Homo sapiens: one gene and its partners. The protein of the gene in region 1 interacts with the protein of each later gene in a pairwise test. Each region holds a gene or a part of one and is shown in the gene's direction. Other genes may lie near its edges.

What was found. Proteins that work in one complex are often made in the same cells at the same time.
Region 2: the proteins of ZSCAN1 (region 1) and ZKSCAN5 interact in a two-hybrid assay, tested with the Homo sapiens proteins (one large-scale study listed by BioGRID and IntAct).
Region 3: the proteins of ZSCAN1 (region 1) and ZNF407 interact in a two-hybrid assay, tested with the Homo sapiens proteins (one large-scale study listed by BioGRID and IntAct).
Region 4: the proteins of ZSCAN1 (region 1) and SSX3 interact in a two-hybrid assay, tested with the Homo sapiens proteins (one large-scale study listed by BioGRID and IntAct).

What each region holds. Positions count from the first base shown.
Region 1 is NC_000019.10:58,031,870-58,037,561, forward strand, and holds the start of ZSCAN1 (zinc finger and SCAN domain-containing protein 1), read left to right. Parts: upstream 1-2,155; 5' UTR 2,156-2,292; intron 2,293-2,873; exon of another isoform or gene 2,874-4,100; 5' UTR 4,101-4,142; exon of another isoform or gene 4,143-4,613; coding exon of another isoform or gene 4,614-4,624; intron 4,625-5,692. UniProt on the Homo sapiens protein: May be involved in transcriptional regulation.
Region 2 is NC_000007.14:99,527,546-99,532,402, forward strand, and holds part of ZKSCAN5 (zinc finger protein with KRAB and SCAN domains 5), read left to right. Parts: intron 1-3,562; coding exon 3,563-4,704; 3' UTR 4,705-4,857. UniProt on the Homo sapiens protein: May be involved in transcriptional regulation.
Region 3 is NC_000018.10:75,061,754-75,066,643, forward strand, and holds the end of ZNF407 (zinc finger protein 407), read left to right. Parts: intron 1-1,396; coding exon 1,397-2,715; 3' UTR 2,716-3,918; downstream 3,919-4,890. UniProt on the Homo sapiens protein: May be involved in transcriptional regulation.
Region 4 is NC_000023.11:48,349,732-48,354,819, reverse strand, and holds part of SSX3 (protein SSX3), read left to right. Parts: intron 1-73; coding exon 74-188; intron 189-725; coding exon 726-821; intron 822-2,670; coding exon 2,671-2,720; intron 2,721-4,697; coding exon 4,698-4,833; intron 4,834-5,088. UniProt on the Homo sapiens protein: Could act as a modulator of transcription.

The sequences.
Region 1 (5,692 bases):
GGGCACCTGTAATCTCAGCTACTCTGGAGGCTTAGGCAGGAGAATCACTTGAACCCGAGAGGTGGAGGTTGCAGTGAGCCAAGATCACGCCTTTGCACTCCAGCCTGGGCAACAAGAGCAAGACTCTTTTTAAAAAAAACAAAACAAACAAACAAAAAAAAACTGAAACCTCTGCTAGACACCAGGCTGCCTCCCAATGGATCTAGAGTTACCAGGTGGCCTATGATGGTGTCTAGATCCAGACTCTAGAGACAGACTAAGTCAGTGTTCTCTCAAGGGAGATTTCCCAAATGGGTGGCAGTTATAAATGCACACATGAGCCTTCACTGCCCCAAAGGGCCACGCCAATTTCAGCTACCAAGAAAATGAACCATGTCATTACAAGTGCCTAATTTTCAAGAAGGAGAATAATAAGCCCTTAGCACCCTAATTTGGTTTTCCCATAGTGGTTTCTGCACAAAGTGGCATTCACACACAACATTCCAGGGACCAGCCGCCAGCAGCAAAGATGCGGAGACACGGCTCTGATTATCCAGCTGAGGCAGCCCCTCCCCTCCCTGCCACTCCTGGGACTCTTAATCTCCAGGCCTCGTTTTATTTTATTCTAGGTATTTATATTTCCATGAAGCATCTGCTTTGTTTACTGGTGTTTGCCCCATGAACATGGGCTTCCAAGGGACTAAAGCCCTATCAGTCCCTCTCACTGATGTGCTCCCACCCCAGTGTCCAGAACAGTGCCTGGTACACATAGGCCCTCAATAAACAGCTGTCCAGCAGATGCTGGACCCCCTGGAGGTGGGTCCTCCTCTCTTTTCTTAGCTCACACTCTCCTGCTTCTTCTTCAGCAATGAGCAGCTTCAGCTATCCTGAGCTCAGTCCCAGAGCTGAGGACCCTCCTTGCATCATGATCTCACCCCCACCTGATTTCAGATACAAAACGAGTATCTGTGGAACCCTACTATTCTGGCACATGGTTACATTGTAGACATTAATATTAAAACTTATTTATATGAAATGTTCTTATGTAAGGTTTCGTTAAAGTATATGAAATATAGGACACATTGATACTAATTCCTTGTTTTTCTTTTTCTTTCTTTCTTTTTTTTTTTTTTTTTTTTTTTTTGAGACAGAGTCTCACTCTGTTGCCCAGGCAAGGCTGGAGTGCGTTGGCAGGTCTCGGCTCACTGCAACCTCGGCTTCCCCAGTTCCAGCGATTCTCCTACCTCAGCCTCCCGAGTAGCTGGGATTACAGGCACGCACCACCATGCCTGGCTAATTTTTGTATTTTTAGTAGAGACGGGGTTTCACCATGTTGGCCAGGCTGGTCTGAAACACCCGACCTCAGGTGATCCGCCTGCCTCGGCCTCCCGAGTTCTGGGATTACAGGCGTGAGCTATCGCGCCCGGCCTCCTTGTTTTTCTTGAGTTTACATATAACTGAGGTTTCTTTTTTCTTTCTTTTTTTTGGGGGTGGGGGGACGGAGTCTCGCTCTGTCACCCACGCTGGAAAACTGGAGTGCAATGGAGCAATCTCGGCTCACTGCAACCTCCGCCTCCCCGGTTCCAGTGATTCTCCTGTCTCAGCCTCCTGAGAAACTGGGATTACAGGCATGCGCCACCACGCCCAGGTAATTTTTGTATTTTTAGTAGAGACGGGGGTTTCACCATATTGGTCAGGCTGGTCTCGAACTCATGACCTCGTGATCCGCCTGCCTTGGCCTCCCAAAGTGCTGGGATTACAGGCGTGTCACCGCGCCCGGCCGACGTCCTGTATTTTTATTTGCTAAGAGTGGCGATCCTAGTCTGGGACATACTTGTACTAAACATATTTATATTAAAAACAATGTTTTAACATACTACTCTTGGACACTGTATAAAACGGTTGCGTGTCTGGAATGCCGTCGTTTTGCCCCGCGGCCCCATCGTACATGCGCATCCCCGCAGCCGCCACCGTCTCCACTTTCCGCAGCAGCGTCCCTGACGCTGCGCGACCCGTTGCCAAGGCGACTGGAACCGCGGCCCGAGGTAACTGGAGGGCACGGCGGGGGCGGGGCGCTCATCCCAGGCGGCTTCTGATTGGCCTCGGCCGCCTCGTGCGTCACAGCCCCGCCCCTGCCCGGGAGTCCCGCAGCGGTGACTTGTCACCGACGCCCGGCGTGATCCAGCGGACCAATGGCGGCCGCCCGCGGCGCGCAGGGTGCGGGGATGGGGTCCGCCCGCGGCGTTGGGCGCGCTCGCCAGCCCAGGGGTCGCCATGACCGAGTGGCCCAGGCCCGAGCGAAGCCCGCGCGCGGTGAGTCCGCCGCGGCCCATCCGTCCCTCCGCCCGCCAGAGCGTCCATCGGGACGCCCACCCGGGAGGGTCTCGGCGCCGCGTCGGCGGGAGCTGGCCCGGGATCGCGGTCCAGGGGCGCGCGTCGGGGGAGGCGGGCCCGGGCCCGGGAGGGGGCGGGCCGGGCCGGGGTTCCAGAGCCCATCGGGAGTCCTGAGGTCGCCGTAGGGGAGGGAAGGGGAAGGCTAGAGGCCACGCGGGGCGGGGACTGGGGGGGCTGGGGCCGCCCCTTCCGCAGGGACCCCGACCCCTGTTGGCATCCGCCTGTCCGTTTGAGGCCGAAGCCCCTCTACGTACCCCCATTGCCCGCCCAAACACCGCTCGGCCGCGTCCAAGTTCTCCCTTCCACACCTGATCAGCATCCCGGGACCTATCTCCCTCCTGAACAGCCGCCCCCGGACCCATCTCCCTCCCTACCCGGCCCCTTGGGCCCATCCCCCACTGGAACAGCAGCCCCCGACCCGTCTCTCTCCCTACAAGCTCCCCCTCCCCGCCCCAGGCCCATCTCCCTCCTGAACAGCCGCCCCCGACCCATCCCCCACCCAATCACCCCACCATCCTCCCCCCAACCAGCCGTCCACAGCCGTCGTCGCTGCCCCTCCCCTGTATTCCCAGTGCGCTGCCCTTGCACACTTCCCCAGCTCGTTTATTATGGAACTCCTCCGTGTGGCATCCTAAGCTCCCAACGCCCTCCCCACTGTAAGCCCCCTTCTCAAAGCCAGAACCATTCACTGACTGGCGCAGTGAACACGTCTTCTATGTCACTAAGCATCCGGCATCAGCGGCAAAGCCCTTCTGCCCATCCCCGCAATAGAATTTGGGGCTCGGGCTGCAGATCTCAGTGCCCATGCCAGGTGAACCTGGCCCTTCCACAGGCACTGAGCCCTCCAAGTGACACTCTCTCACACACACACATCCCCAACATTAATCAGAGACCCCTACCAAAGTAGACTTCTAGGACCCCAGGGCCACCACAGCATTGCCCATGGGGGGGCCCAGATCCTCCTCACCAGCCATGTAGACCTCAGTCCCCTTCACATCATCCCAGGCCCTCTTCATCTTCCAGAAACAGCCACCCATCAGTCCAGGACTCTCATCAGCTCAGGTACCCCCACATTGGCCTAGGTGTTCCACATCAGCCCCCATATAGACCCCAGACACACCCATGGACCTCTGGTGCCTTCTGCTAAGACCTCCTCTTTACCCTCATCCCTGATAAACTTAGCATCTCCTCCCACAGACCTCAGCCCAGGACCCTGGAGGATGCTGAGGGGCTACAGCCCCCCTCCCTAGAGTCTCCAGGGTGAGCTGCCATGAGCACCTGAGAGAGTATAAGGTCTGAGGCCCCAGGGCAAAGGGATTTCTTGAACCTGTGGAGCTTCAAAATAGGCCCTTTTTTCTTATTCAAAACTACATATATAAAAGTGTGAATACAACATAAGAGAGCATTTTTGCCTGTGGCCTTGGCAGGGAAGACCAAGCTGGTAGTTTCCCAATCAGGGTGCAGGTGGCCGGGTACGCTGACTCGAAGATGGCTGGCTGGGCACAGTCCCCGTGAGTTGCCTTTCTGCCACCCTGCACCTCTCCTTTCTCCTGGATTGTAAAACCAGATGCACGAGAACTGCAGAGTGTATGAAAAATGCAGCAGAGGATGAAGAGGGAAAAATCCCATGGAATCCCTCCTTTTCACTTGTCATAAGCATTTCCCATATGGTCAAAAATCCTTCCTAAAGATGTCTTGTTTTGTTTTGTTTTTCCATGTTGATGAAGGTCACATGGGAGCCCGACACCATTTGGAGGAGATTCAGAGAAGTATGAACAGCACAAAGCACTTGGCCGCCCCCCATGGGCGTCTTCCCAGGACTCCCTTTCTATGACACTCACGCATCATCCTGCATCCCACGTTCCCTGTGCCTCATGTCATCTGTACATCATGTGTCTACTCCCCGTGGTCATGTCATAGTGTTGTGTACTGGGCACGGTTGAATACTCCCATCACATGATGGGGGAGGTAGTTGATCCCACCACGTTCAACTGTTGGGCACTTTTGTAGTGAATCTTGGTGCCTGAATCTCGCATCTTGCACGCAGTCTACCAAGTGTTCTTGATATATAAATGGCCACAGTGCTTTCCAGAAAGGTCGTGCCAATTTATATTCTCACCAGCGGATCAGTCCAGAGTACAATTGTTAAAGACAAACAAACGAAACCTCCCTGCTTATTTTTATTTTTACAACTTTTAATGTTTTCTTCAGTTATATGTTCACCATAGTCGGCTTGGAAAATGTACAAAAGGTAACTTCTTTTTTTTCTTTTCTTTTTTTTTTTTTTTTTTGAGACAGAGTCTTACTCTGTCGCTCAGGCTGGAGTGCAGTGGCACAGTCTCAGCTCACTGCAATCTCCGCCTCCTGGGTTCAAGCATTTCTCCTGTCTCAGCCTCCCGAGTAGCTGGGATTACAGGTGCGTGCCACCACGCCCAACTCATTTTTGGTTATTTATTTTTTTTGGGATGGAATCTCACGCTGTCACTCAGGCTGGAGTACAGTGGTGCGATCTTGGCTTACTGCAACCTCTGTTTCCTGGGTTGGAGCAATTCTCCTGCCTCAGCCTCCCACGTAGCTGGGATTAGAGGTGTGCACCACCACGCCGGCTAATTTTTGTATTTTTAGTAGACGGGGTTTCGCCATGTCGGTCAGGCTGGTCTTGAACTGCTGACTTCAGGTGATCCACCCACCCGGGCCTCCCAAAGTGCTGGGATTACAGGTGTGAGCCACGGCACCCGGCCACAAAAGGTTATTTTAAAATTACTCTTCCCACTTTCCCTCTCTTTTCAGAGTCTCCAGTCTCCCTTGCCCTCTTCCTGGTCTCCACCCCCAGCTTGGACCTGGTAGGAAAGTCAGGAAGACAGCAAAGATAACACCATGGGTAGACCTGCTGCTGGTGGTGGTGTCATCCATTATTATGTAGCCCACCTGGCTGCTTCCATTTAAATGGAATTTAAATTTAAAATTCAGTTCCTATTTCAGGTGCTCCTAGCCACACGTAGGTGGTTGCATGGGTAGAGAATCTTTACATCCCTGTAGGAACTTCACTGGGCAGTGCTGGCCACACCACGGGGCAGGCATTCTTGTTCCCGCAGCTCGTCAGTCAATGTGTGTTGAATGACTAAATGAGAGGGAGATAGACACTAAGTAAGGGGAAAAGTTGTGTTCAGAAAGTCATGGAGGTTATGAAGACAGTGCCATAAGGATGATGGCCAGGACATCTGCGAGGGGAGGAGCTGGGGTGGGAAGGGGAGGGGCTGGGGTGGGATGGCAGGTGCAAAGGTCCTGGGGCAGCCAGTGGCTTGAACTCAGTGCAAAG
Region 2 (4,857 bases), on another chromosome or scaffold:
CAGCCCTCCTTTTTATTTCTGACAGTCTGCCATTGTGTGGTGGCATTGTAATTTACTCAAGTGTTCCCAGTTGTTGAACTTCAATTTTTTTCTCTTTTGTCCCGATAACTGTTTATGCCTGTGACTTTTTCTTTTTTTCTTTTCTTTTCTTTTTTTGAGACGGAGTTTCACTCTTGTTGCCCAGGCTGGAGTGCAATGGCACGATCTCAGCTCACTGCAACCTCTGCCTCCCAGGTTCAAGCGATTCTCGTGCCTCAGCCTCCTGAGTAGCTGAGATTACAGGCATTTGCCACCATACCTGGCTAATTTTTTTTTGTATTTTTAGTAGAGATGGGGTTTCACTATATTGGCCAGGATGGTCTCGAACTCCTGACCTCAAGTGATCCACCCGCCTTGGCCTCCCAAAGTGCTGGGATTATAGGTGTGAGCTACCATGCCGGGCCAGTATTTTTAAACATCTGTTCAAATGACAGTAAATTTATCTGTGAATGAGATCGTCATAAACTGTGCTGTGAACTTAAAGGCCCTTACTAATATTCTTCAGATGATTCTAAGACCAGCCAAAATGTTTTTCTTTTTTTTTTTTTTTTTTTTAATTCTGCCTTTGATGTTTACAGCCACGCTGCATCTTCCACCATGGCACAGAAGTCAGTAAAGTGTCTTTAAAGTTCTGGGTTTGAGCTGAGCTATCCTCTCAGCTAGTGTTTTCCCGTTCTACTCGATGATTCCCTCATTTGGAAAATCCACCAATAGCGCTTTGGACTTGAAAAAGCAATCGCTTTAAAATAGTTATCTTTTGTTTTCTACCTTCCCTGCAATTGTTTCTATGGCTAGTTTCCCAGTGAATACTCACTTGCCTTCCACATTTTTTTTGTGGGGCGGGGGCGTTTTTGTATTTTGAGATAGGGTCTTGCTCTGTCACACAGGCTAGGGTAAAGTAGCGGGATCTCAGCTCACTGCAGCCTCCACTTCCTGGGCTGAACTAATCCTCCCACCTCAGCTTCCTGCATAGCTGGGACTACAAGTGTTCACCACCACACCCAGCTAATTTATGTATTTTTTGTAGAGAAGGGGTCTGGCTCTGTTGCCCAGGCTGGTCTTGAACTTCTAGGCTTAAGCGATCCTCCAGCCTTGGCCTCCACAAGTGCTAGGAGTTACAGGTGTGAGCCACCATGCCCGGTCCTCCCTCATTTTTCTGGATCAAAGGGGGAATACATGTTTTGCACATCCAGCCATATTATTGAGAGTCTGTGTTGCTAGTTGCACAGGATCTGCAGTGACCAGAACAGAGATACAGTCCATGCTCTCATGCAGCCGATGGTCTGGTGGGGGTAGCAGATAGTAAAGGTGATGAGCATTCCCAAAGGAGAAGGATGACATGCCGGGGGAGGAAAACTGAGGCTAGAATGTTGGCTAAGGGTGAAGGGGGCAGGGATTGCTGTATCACCCACCCTCTGACAATGCTTCTTGTTGGCTCATTTTGCCTTATTTCCTGACTCCTAGTCAGATATTCCCTGACTGCATACCCTCTTCATCATCCTTCACTCTCATTCTTCCAGTTTTTGTCAGTTCTCACCACCCAGTTATGTATTTGTTTTTTGTTTTTCTTTTTTGAGATGGAGTCTCACTCTGTCACCCAGGCTGGAGTGCAGTGATGTGATCTCAACTCACTGCAGCTTCTGCCTCCTGGGTTCAGGCGATTCTTCTGCCTCAGCCTCCCGAGTAGCTGGGACTACAGGCACCTACCACGATCCCTTGCTAATTTTTGTATGTTTAGTAGAGATGAGGTTTTACCATGTTGGTCAGGCTGGTCTTGAACTCCTGACCTCAGGTGATCCACCTGCCTCAGCCTCCCAAAGTGCTGGGATTATAGGCACGAGTCACCACACCCAGCCTGCTACATTTTCTTTATCAACTCATTGCTCAACGGGCACTTAGATTGGCTCCATATCTTTGCAGTTGTGAATTGTGCTGCAGAAGACAGGCGCTTACAGTCTTTTTGGTATATTGTCTTTTCCTTTGTGTAGATATACCCAGTTGTGGAATTGCTGGATCAAATGGCAGATCTACTTCTGGTTCTTGAAGAAGTCTCCATACTGTTATCCACAGAAGTTGTATTAATTTATCTCTCACCAGCAATGTATAAGCGTTCCCTTTTCACCACATCCATGCCAACATCTATTGTTTTTTGACTTCTTTGTTTTTTTTGAGATGGAGTCTCGCTGTGTTGCCCAGGCTGGAGTGCAGTGGCGCAATCTTGGCTCACTGCAACCTCTGCCTCTTGGGTTCAAGCAATTCTCTGCCTCAGCCTCTGGAGTAGCTGTGATTACAGGGCACCCACCACCATGCCCAGCTAATTTTTGTATTTTTAGTAGAGATGGGGTTTCACTGTCTTGGTCAGGCTGGTCTTGAATTCCTGACCTCGTGATCCACCCACCTCGGCTTCCCAAAGTTCTGGGATTACAGGCGTGAGCCACCTGCACCCGGCCTTTTTTTTTTTTTTTTTTTGAGATGGAGTCTTGCTGTTGCCCAGGCTGGAGTGCAATGGCGCAGTCTCGGCTCACTGCAACCTCAGCCTCCTGGGTTCAAGCGATTCTCCTGCCTCAGCCTCCTGAGTAGCTGGGATTACAGGCGCCCGCCACCATGCCCAGCTAATTTTTGTATTTTTAGTAGAGATGTGGGTTTCACCATGTTGGCCAGGCTGGTTTCGAACTCCTGACCTCAGGTGATCTGCCCGCCTCGGCCTCCCATAGTGCTGGGATTACAGGTGTGAGCCACCACGCCCGGCCTTTTGACTTCTTAATAATGGCCATTCTTGCAGGAGTAAGGCAGTACCTTATTGTGGCTTTAATTTGCACCTTCCTGATGATTAGTGATGTTCAGCATTTTTTTCATGTTTGTTGGTCATTTGTATATATTATTTTGAGAACTGTCTCCATGTCATTTGCCTACTTTTTGATGGGATTTTTTTTTTCTTGTTGACTTGTTAGAGTTACTTGTAGATTCTGGATATTAGTCCTTTGTCTGATGCATAGTTTGCAAATATTTTCTGCCATCCTGTGGATGAGTCTTGCTCTTTTCGTCAGAAAATTCCAAAAGTTTGTTGTTTACATTCCTGTTGGCATCAAGTACACACACACATCCACCTCTGTTACTCCCGTTACATCATAGTTTCATCTGATGAACATTTTTTATGACAGTTTATTTTTCCTTTATAAAAGAACTGATGGGCCAGGCACGGTGGCTTAAACCTGTAATCCCAGCACTTTGGGAGGCTGAGGCGGGTGGATCACCCAAAGTCAGGAGTTTGAGACCAGCCTGGCCAACATGGCAAAACCCCATCTCTACTAAACATACAAAAATTAGCTGGGTGTGGTCATGCACGCCTGTAGTCTCAGCTACTTGAGAGGCTGAGGCAGGAGAATCACTTGAACCCAGGAGGCAGAGGTTGCAGTGAGCCGAGATCGCATCATTGCACTCTAGCCTGGGCGACAGAGCAAGACCCCATCTCAAAAAAAAAAAAGAACTGATGACATTTTCACTTGCTCTTTATTTTTTTTAGGCAGTGACAAAAGAAGTAAGAACACAAAATTAAGTGTTAAGAAGAAAATTTCAGAATATTCAGAAGCAGACATGGAACTATCTGGAAAAACCCAAAGAAATGTTTCTCAAGTTCAAGATTTTGGAGAAGGCTGTGAGTTTCAAGGCAAGCTGGATAGAAAGCAGGGAATTCCCATGAAAGAGATACTAGGACAACCATCTTCAAAGAGGATGAACTACAGTGAAGTCCCATATGTCCACAAAAAATCCTCCACTGGAGAGAGACCACATAAATGTAACGAGTGTGGGAAAAGCTTCATTCAGAGTGCACATCTTATTCAACATCAAAGAATACACACTGGGGAGAAACCATTCAGGTGTGAGGAATGTGGGAAAAGCTACAACCAACGCGTGCACCTAACTCAGCATCAGCGCGTCCACACAGGTGAGAAGCCCTACACCTGTCCCTTATGTGGGAAAGCCTTCAGAGTGAGGTCCCACCTTGTTCAGCATCAGAGCGTGCACAGTGGGGAGAGACCCTTCAAGTGTAACGAATGTGGGAAAGGCTTTGGGAGGCGTTCCCACCTGGCTGGACATCTTCGACTCCACTCCCGAGAGAAATCCCATCAGTGTCGTGAATGTGGGGAAATCTTTTTTCAGTACGTTAGCCTAATTGAACATCAGGTGCTCCACATGGGTCAGAAAAATGAAAAAAATGGCATCTGTGAGGAAGCATATAGTTGGAACTTGACAGTGATTGAAGACAAGAAGATTGAGTTACAAGAGCAGCCTTATCAGTGTGATATCTGTGGAAAAGCCTTTGGTTATAGCTCAGACCTCATTCAGCATTACAGAACTCATACAGCAGAGAAGCCCTATCAATGTGATATATGTAGAGAAAATGTTGGCCAGTGTTCCCACACCAAACAACATCAAAAAATCTACTCCAGCACAAAATCCCATCAATGTCATGAATGTGGCAGAGGCTTCACTCTGAAGTCACATCTTAATCAACATCAGAGAATCCATACTGGTGAGAAACCTTTTCAATGTAAAGAATGTGGAATGAATTTCAGCTGGAGTTGTAGCCTCTTTAAACACCTGAGAAGCCATGAGAGGACAGATCCCATAAATACCTTAAGTGTAGAGGGGTCTCTGTTGTAGAATAGCTCTTAATTTTAGAGAAACCTTCCTGGAGGGAAACCATACTCCTATAATGAGCAAAGTAACAACTTCAAGCATTTTTCCAGCGTTACCATCAAACTCACAAATAGGTTGAAATCCTTTAGTTATAACTCAGCCTTTAGGAACACCGGA
Region 3 (4,890 bases), on another chromosome or scaffold:
CCAGACCAGGGGATGCACCCAGCTCCGGCTCTCCCCTCCTCACTCTCGTCCTGCTCACCCCCTCTTTTCTCTCCTGGTCTCCCCTTATTGCCTCTGCCCGGGCACCACGGGGCTTATGGTATCTTCTACACACGTTGTTTTCACTAAGGCATTTGGGGCTGGCACTTCAGATCGTAAATTTCTTACCCTCTGTTACAGTCCTGTAGTTTTCCTGCTAAAAACATTCAGCACGCTCCTCCTCTCTGCAGCCCATAGCCCAGGTACCTTAGTGCAGGGTGGAGGAAGCCTTGGGCAACCTGCTCTGTGATGAGCAACCTATTCTCCTAACAGCCCGAGCCTTCCACCGCCCTGAGGCCTTGAAGCACCTTGGGGATGGCCTTCCTGCCTCTGCCTGGGCCCTCGCTGCTTCTGTCTGGAACTTCTCCTCCCAGTCCACGAGAGATGGCTTGAATCTTGTCCTGAAGACAGGGCTACAATGTTGTTTCGTTTTTACATCTTTCCCTGAATATTCTTTCCTGAATGTATGGCTTCTTTGTCTCTGTGTCTTGTCACCTTATGTTGTATCCAAGACGTTCGGCAAACACATCTTTGTTGATTACTTATTCAATCCAAGGCACTGTCCGGAAGATGGGACAGAGAAGAGGAAGGCTGAGTCTGTCCCCTCGAAGCCCGCTGCCCAGTTCTGCAGTATAGACTCCCCTCTCAGCCCCTGAGTGGCCAGGACCCTGTGTCTGCATGTGCCCAGCACCCTGCAGAGTGCCCTGCATGCTGCCAGGACACGGCGACTCACATGGCCGCACAGGCTGCCTGCCCAGGTTCAGCACCTGAAACGTCGATGTTCAATAAATATTTGTTGCATTAAACTTTTACAGCGGTGTTTATTGATGACATTTTTTAAAATTTAATATGCAAGGCTTTCATTCTTTTTGCTGAATAAACAAATATACCATATATAATATTTGGTCATTAAAAAAAGATTTTCCGTTGGGTTAGGAGATACTACTGCTGGCTGTTTGCTGAACTTTACTTAGCACCCGTGACGGAACGCATTGTTACAAAAGACATGATGGTGGTTGGGGGGAGGTATCCAGCCTCCTTCCCTGGGCATTGGAGAGGCGCACACCCCTGCAAAGAGTTGTATTGGACAGCTCACAGGGCTGTGGGGAAATGCACACCCAGTATTAACTGTGTGTGCCCTTGAGCCTAGAGCCTGCCTGCAGATGCCCACGGAGGCCTCTGGCCCTGCTGAAGCTTGCACTGTAGAGAGCTCTTCAGGGTTTGGAATAGGGGGTCGTGGTGACTCTGCTGAGGCCTGAGCGCTTCTGCAGAAGAAGTGTCTTACTTGTAAGCCTACGAGTACTTTTTCCAGGCTCTAACTGGTCCCTGTCTCCCTTAGGCATTGTTTCCAAGTCGTACGAGTGCCGTCTAAAGGGACAAGGAGCCACCTTCGTGGAGACAGACAGCCCCTTCACCGCGGCGGCCTTGGCAGAAGAGCCCCTCGTCAAGGAGAAGCCCCTCAGAAGCAGCAGGAGGCCAGCGCCGCCCCCTGAGCAGGTGCAGCAGGTCATCATCTTCCAGGGCTACGACGGGGAGTTTGCCCTGGACCCCTCGGTGGAGGAGACGGCCGCCGCCACGCTGCAGACGCTGGCCATGGCCGGCCAGGTGGCCCGGGTGGTGCATATCACGGAGGATGGCCAGGTCATCGCCACGAGTCAGAGCGGGGCACATGTAGGCAGCGTGGTGCCCGGACCCATCCTCCCCGAGCAGCTGGCTGATGGAGCCACCCAGGTGGTCGTCGTGGGGGGCTCCATGGAAGGCCACGGCATGGATGAGTCCCTCAGTCCAGGTGGCGCTGTGATACAACAGGTGACCAAGCAGGAGATTTTAAACCTCTCGGAGGCTGGAGTCGCTCCCCCCGAGGCATCCTCAGCCCTGGATGCATTGCTCTGTGCGGTCACTGAATTAGGGGAGGTGGAGGGCAGGGCTGGGCTCGAGGAGCAAGGCAGGCCCGGCGCCAAAGACGTGCTGATCCAGCTGCCCGGGCAGGAGGTCTCCCATGTGGCTGCCGACCCCGAGGCCCCCGAGATCCAGATGTTCCCACAGGCCCAGGAGAGCCCGGCCGCCGTGGAGGTGCTCACCCAGGTGGTCCATCCCTCAGCAGCCATGGCCTCTCAGGAGCGGGCACAGGTGGCCTTCAAGAAGATGGTCCAGGGCGTCCTCCAGTTTGCTGTGTGTGACACGGCCGCGGCCGGCCAGTTGGTCAAGGACGGTGTCACCCAGGTGGTGGTGAGCGAAGAGGGTGCCGTCCACATGGTCGCCGGGGAGGGTGCCCAGATCATCATGCAGGAGGCGCAGGGCGAGCACATGGATCTGGTGGAGTCCGACGGGGAGATCTCGCAGATCATCGTGACGGAGGAGCTGGTCCAGGCCATGGTGCAGGAGTCCAGTGGCGGCTTCTCCGAGGGCACCACGCACTACATCCTGACAGAGCTGCCCCCAGGGGTGCAGGACGAGCCGGGCCTGTACTCCCACACCGTGCTGGAGACTGCGGACTCGCAGGAACTCCTGCAGGCCGGGGCCACGCTAGGCACAGAGGCCGGGGCCCCAAGCAGGGCAGAGCAGCTGGCCAGCGTGGTCATCTACACCCAGGAGGGCTCCTCGGCCGCGGCGGCAATTCAGAGCCAAAGAGAAAGCAGCGAACTCCAGGAAGCATGAGACGCGCGGCACCTTTACTCAGCACAGGGCAGGTGTGGGAAGGTCCAGCTTCGGTGGGGGACCGTGTTCCCTGAGCTTCATCTGAAACCTTCAAAACCATGAGGACAAGGCTCCCGTGAGCTCTGAGCATGCCCTCCCAGCGAGAGTCACACTGGCCACCAGCCAGGCGCCCACAGAGGGTACCGTGGGCTGGGCCTCGGGGAGCAGGCTGCCAAGTGCAGGGGAGGGCCGGGCGCAGGCCGCACAGGGAGCTCCGGTCCACTGGGGGCCCTTCGATCAGTGGCCTCCCGCTTCGTCCTGGCCGCTGTGCTGAAGAGAAGCCAAGTGTTGTTGGTGTTTTTCTCTCCCAAGTGTTTTCCCATTTCAGTTATCAGAAGGTCATGGCCGTGGGGAAAGTGGTGAAGATACCCCTCCTGGCTTGGGGTGCACCTGCTTGTGCAGTCAGCATGTAGCTGCCTTTCCATTTCATTCTCTACTGGGCTAAAAATTGCAGCTACAAGTGTTACCATCTTGAAGCAGTCCACTTCCATTCAATTTTTTTTTTTTAATTTTAGAATAACAGTGTCCCCATACCAAAGGAAGCCTGCTAGCTCATTTCATGTATAAATTTCCCATCTTCAAACAGTTTAGGTGTATTTGTTGCTCTGGTCACATTCTGCATAAAAGAAATCCTCTTAAGCCTATGGTTAAGAAAAGCCTTGAAGTTTATATTCAGTTAAAATATATGTCGGTGGAGATAGCCAGTGCTTCTAATTTTGACTTAGTTTCATACAGTAAAGCCTAAATGTGAAACGCACACGCTGGAAGATATTGTTCCTATCAATATTTTGCTTTTTATAACAAGGGTTTGTTCATATTGATGCCATTTTTGCAGGATTTCTTCGTGATTTCTGTCCATATGAAAATGCTGACATTAAACATTAACACATGGAGACCGTGCCCTGTGGCCCTGCCGTGGCTGCCAGCATGGTCTGTGTTTCCTTGTGGATTCACCTGTGGCCCTGCTGTGGCCACCAGCATGGTCTGTGTCCTCGTGGATTCACTGCAGCTGTCGGATGCGAGTTTCTGTCATAATCATTTGTTTCCTGATACAATTGTTCTTATTCTTTTCCAAAACTGTAAAATAATCTCCTCCCTCAAATGCAAAGGTTGTTTTTGTTCTGTTTCTGTTTTCTTTGAAATAAAATTATAACGTTAAAAGATCACGATGGCATGTTATTTTCAGCAGCCAGTGGTGGGCAGCTGTGGCAACCGAGGGGGCACCCCGGCGCTTGTGGCTGCTGGCTTCTCCCTCCTTCGTGGCCTCCAGACGCGGAGCACTGCTGCACATCCCCTGCAGCCCGATACTGTTTCTCAGCATCTGGCAAATGGCCCAGATGCATTCTGGTGACAATAACGTATTCTATCATGGATAGCATCTAGAAATCGTGAAGAGCAGGCATGAGAGGAAAGGAGAGTGGTACCTTCTTTGTTTAAATACAAGTGCCGTTTAAAATCTCTTCCTGAGAGAGCATGGAGACCAGCTCACGCTTTGACCAGTTCAGAAGCGGAACCGGCCTCTTCCTAGCGCCCTTCTCACTGCTGAGCTCTGTCCACCTAGGGCCACCTCCCTTTAGACAGCCACTCCTCCAAAAAAATAAGAACTGAAGGTAAATTTCAAGGCTGACACTGAGATCCATAATTAGCTGAGTATGACTTGCTCATGTTTCTTAACAATGGCAGGGCTATTCAGGGCTTCTTAAACACTGTCTTCAGCAAACAGTGACAGGATCAAGGTGACCTTTACAAAGTGATGGCCCTCGCCAGGCTTCTCATACATGTTAAAAAAAAAAAAAAAAAAAAAAAAAAAAAAGGTTGGCGGGGGGATGTTTTTCAGTGGAAAGATTTCTTCTTGATCACTCCTCCCGTTAGCAGTAGCCCACGGCCCTCGGCTCGGATGCTAATTCCTAACCGTGCGTAGTCCTGTATGGCTAACCTTTCTGCTGCAGTCCAGGGTGTTGACACTGACATGCTGCAGTGTACCGTCGGTGATTTATTTAGGATAAATATGTCTCAGGTGGCATTTAATCCTTCATAAAACCAGTGTAGCCTGCAGTGTCAAACCAGCAATCACGTTGTATGCGCAATGAAAAGAGCAGGCCTTTGCATAAAAAAAAATTGTACAGAAGGTGTTTC
Region 4 (5,088 bases), on another chromosome or scaffold:
GAAGCGACTCCAGCTGAATGGCAGACATGCCTAGCTGAGTCCCTGCCATAATTCCTTTTTTTTTTTTTTGTAGGCCTTCGATGATATTGCCAAATACTTCTCTAAGGAAGAGTGGGAAAAGATGAAAGTCTCGGAGAAAATCGTCTATGTGTATATGAAGAGAAAGTATGAGGCCATGACTAAACTAGGTAACAGAAAGTTCTAGGTACAGACAAGTCTGGGGACACATGAGCATCCCTTTTCCTGCTTTGGCTATTTCTTAGGCTGCAGAAAGTACCTCACATTTTCCTTTTGTGTAGGGAAAAATCGCAAGGCAGCTTCTGGGTGTTCTGCTCTTCTATATCCTGTCAGGGCTGAGGGCAGTGACTGGCCACAGTGGAGCTCATACCTGGATCCTGCACGTTTCTCTCTCTTAGGCTTCTGTTCTGATGAGCCCAACTGTCTCTGTGGCATCCCGGCAACCATCCTACCCCCACCCCACACACACCCACTCTACCTTCTCTCGGCTTGTCTCTTTCTTTTTTTTTTTTTTTTGTTTGAGTCAGTCTGAATCTGTCACCTAGGCTAGAGTGCAGTAGTGCAATCATAGCTTACTGCAGCCTTGAATTCCTGGCCTCAAGCAATCCTCCAGCCTTAGCCTCCCAAAGTGTTGGTACTACAGACATGAGCCACCGTACCAGGCCCAAGCTTGTCTCTTAAGGAATAAACATTTTGCTTCTTTCTAGGTTTCAAGGCCATCCTCCCATCTTTCATGCGTAATAAACGGGTCACAGACTTCCAGGGGAATGATTTTGATAATGACCCTAACCGTGGGAATCAGGGTGAGTAGATGGGAAGGGGCTGGAAAGGGTCTCCTCAAGCCCAATTGCTTTTCAGCTCAGCTACCTGGGAAAGAGCCTCAGGCATTTGTTCCCTCATACACATCGGGGCAGAGTGAAAAAAAAAATTGCATGCAGAAAGTTAACTACAGAGGTCATTCATATAAAATTTTAAAACATGCAAAAGAAGAATATATATTTTTATGGATAATAAGTAAATGGTAAATGTATACAAACATGAATGTGAATAAAAAGCCATCAAACTAAGGTGACTGGCTGTAAGTGGAGGAGGGAGGGAGGGCAGGGATTGCTGAGTGCTGCACAGACAGCTTCAGCTGTGACTTGTTGATAGTGTGTTTTGTTTGTTTTTGTTTTTGAGATGGAGTTTCACTCTTCTCGGCCAGGGTGGAGTGCAATAAGGCAATCTCAGCTCACTCCAACTTTCACCTCCTGGGTTCAAGTGATTCTTCTGCCTCAGCCTCCCGAGTAGCTGGGGTTACACGCACGTGCCCCCACACTCAGCTCATTTTTTAATTTATGGTAGAGACGGGGTTTCACCATGTTGGCCAGGCTGGTCTCAAACTTCCTGACCTCAGGTGATCCACCCGCCTCAGCCTTCCAAACTGCTGGGATTACAAGTGTGAGCTACCACGCCCGGCCTGTTTGCAGTTTTTCTAATATTCTGAATAAATAAATCAGACCTAACTTAGCTGTGGGGTAATGTTGAGATCCGACTGGACTCAATATTATTCCCCATACTTTTCTGTGTGTTTGAAATATTTCTTTTTTAAATGACATGTTGTTCTTCCTAAGCACTGTTAATGTATCAAAGGACAGTTAAGAAAATGTTACAAGTGAAAAAAAAAAAAAAGAAAGAAAGTGTTAAAACTGTAGATCCGCCAAAAACTTCCAGAGGTTGTTTCATTAACAGCATGTAGGTATTGGATAGGTATCTTAGGAGTGAGGTTGATGAACACATTATGTAATAAAGATCGCTGTTTCTCTGTATTTTATCAAAACCAAATAGTCTTCTCATTCCCAAATAACCCTGATTCTCTGTGATGAGCTTGAAAGAGAGTTTGAAAGAGTGATCCCTTATCGAAAACACAGAGAGCTTTCCCACTTGTCAGAGAACAGAGATAACATAGGATGAAAAAAAGACAGGTTCTTGGGTAGAGAGCTTTGTGCATTTCAGGAAAATAAAGGGGACATATGTATTTACTTGCTCTTCTACTCTGACAACATAATTATAAGACAAGGTCAGAATGTCCAAACCGTCTCCAATAGACCTATTACTCGCCAACTAAACAGGCCAGATTCTACAATCTCCCGCAATCACTATAAGAGATCTGAAAAGCCAGTGCTTGAGTATCTGCCAAGTTTTTAACGTTAAAGGACTGTCTTTGTACTGAAAATCTTTCAGAGCCACTGGACCAAATCATCCGTGGTTCACCACACATTTAACAGCTTAATTCACATACCATAAGATTCACCCATTTGAAGTGTACAATGATTTTCAGTTGTTGCACATCTTGAGTGGATACAGTTCAGATTCCTAACCAATCAATTTAATTATTTGGGAAAAAGTAAAAGATATGTAATCGAATAAGATGAGACTGTGATGGGGTGTAGTCCCCATGTGATAAACCATGAGATGGAAAATTCTGAATTGATGCCACAGATAAATGCATCAACCATGACTAAACATAATTCAGAAGCAAATCTGAAATAACTCCTCAACAATGCGTGGACTCATAAGCCTCTGCTGCAGAATACCCTGATGCGACAGAAGTCTCTCTAGAGTTTGGAAACCTTTACCAACAATGAAAAATTCTGATGTATTCTCTTTCAGTTCAACGTCCTCAGATGACTTTCGGCAGGCTCCAGGGAATCTTCCCGAAGGTGAGTATCTTTCAGATCTAAAGGACCAGAGAACCTTTGTCCCTCCAAGGATGCGAACACTGGTAAGAGTGGGAGAATATCAACAATGCCCTCACTGCCTTCTTCTCCCCATGTCTATCACAACACCTGATGTAGCACCGACGGCTTGATAGTACCAACATTTGTGATTGTTCATACCTCTTTTGTTTTCATAGTGATGCCAGATACTATTTCAAGCAGTTCACATGGATTAATTTATTTAATCCTTAAGAAGACATTGTTTCTATTATCTCCGAATAATAATGAGTAACACATTTCAGTTTTCATCCATATGATAGCCATATGACTTGGCACAAATCTTCTGAGTTCTCTGAGCTCCAGATTCCTGGTCCATGAAATGGAAGTAAAGAATTATAGTTTATGTTTTAGATCATAGTTATCAGCAACATAATAATAAAATGAGGCTATCGTGGTACAGAGATGTTAAAGAATTTTCCTGAGGCGCAGTGTCAGTGGTAGTCTAATCCAGAGCTCCAAGCCATTTAAAGCTCATTCACGTTTGCATTTGTTTATGAAGTTCAGATGTTGCTCACTAGGGCTTCACCCCATAGGGCCTGCTGGTGCTTCCATTGAGACACCCACTCTCGCAACAGGAAGGACCATCTGGTCTCTGCTGTGTTACTGGGGCCACTTGCATGGCTTAGGAATCGCTTTGATTGTTGGCCCCTCCCTACTGTGAGCTCCTTGAGTGCCTTGTCTGCACCTGGGGCGTCTGGGAAGCCCCAGTCCCAGCCCAGGGGATCCCTCGGAGGCCCCTGAATGAGTGATCCCACAAGTGCAGATTCAACTCTGGTTTGGAGGGTAAAGGGATCTGGGAGTTGGGTTGCCAGTGTGGAGACTGAATTCAAAGAAGGATTGTGAAAGGTATTAATTGTTATTATTACTACATTTAAAGAGTGTTTACAAGCTCAGAGAGCACTTTCTTGTAGCCTATTTTACATGTATGGTTCACTATTTCATAAGGGAGGAAGCTGAATTAAAAGTAGCTTAAGATCAGGGCGCGGTGGCTCACGACTGTAATCCCAGCACTTTGGGAGGCTGAGTCGGGCAGATCACAAGGTCAGGAGATCGAGACCATCCTGCCCAACATGGTGAAACCTCGTCTCTACTAAAAATACAAAACTTAGTGGGGCGTGGTAGTGCCTGCCTGTAGTCCCAGATACTCTGGAGGCTAAGGAAGGAGAATCGCTTAAACGCGGGAGTCAGATATTGCCTTGAGCCGATATCATGCCACGGCTCCCCATTCTGGCGACACAGCAAGACTCCGTCTCAAAAAAAAAAAAAAAAAAGAAAAAGAAAGCAGCTTAAGATTGTTGGTCAGTACACATCCCAATGCAACCAGAATTGGTATGGGTACCACCTCACTGAATTCCACATTCAATTGGTGCCTCGGTAGGGTAGTATGTCATATCTGGTACTGCTTTGTTTGCTGCCTAGATTAATTTCAGCAAGCCATTTATTTCCCTCTCCCTTCCTTGTGTTCATCTCCCCACACCATCTTTCCCAGCAGTGTTTTGTCGCCTCCCTATGTTTTTACATTTACTCTCCCAGCAGCTGTCTACAAGCTTATATGGGATCCCTTGTATTTTACAGAACCTCTTCCCTTTGTAGACCTTGTGAATTCTTAGAATGCTACTCTTCTCCAAATCATCTGTATATCACACTCTCAATTAAATGGAGATTTTTGCTGTTTGCAAGAATGTGAGTCCTAAAAGAGTGGGAAGATAAGCATTCTATCCCTGGAAACCATATTCACTTAGGCCATTCCTTTCCCTTCTAACCTCCCCTCCCAGGTTTCTCCTAATTTAGGCCTGTGTAACTCTCCCAGTGTTGTTGAGAACATTGAATAAGCTAATGCATGTGAAGACCCTTTGTAAGCTCAAAAGCACTATAGAAATGTCACTGATACTATTTATCTATGACCTTCACATTATAAAGATCATGCCCAAGAAGCCAGCAGAGGAAGGAAATGTTTCGAAGGAAGTGCCAGAAGCATCTGGCCCACAAAACGATGGGAAACAGCTGTGCCCCCCGGGAAAACCAACTACCTCTGAGAAGATTAACATGATATCTGGTAAGAGGAAGCAATTCAGGAACAATCCCACTGGCTTCCCTGGCGACGTTCAGGTGTGTGGACTGGGTGTGTGGCATGGATCCCAGATAACCCTGGGTCCAGGCTGGGCTGAGGAGCTTGCCCAGCTCCAGATGAGATGTTAGACATGACTTCCAGAGACAGACTGGAGTTGTCATCCATATAAAAAAAAACCACGTGACTTGAGGAAAGTCTTCCAAATTTCCTCAGCTCCAGGTTCCTAGTCCATAAGATGGA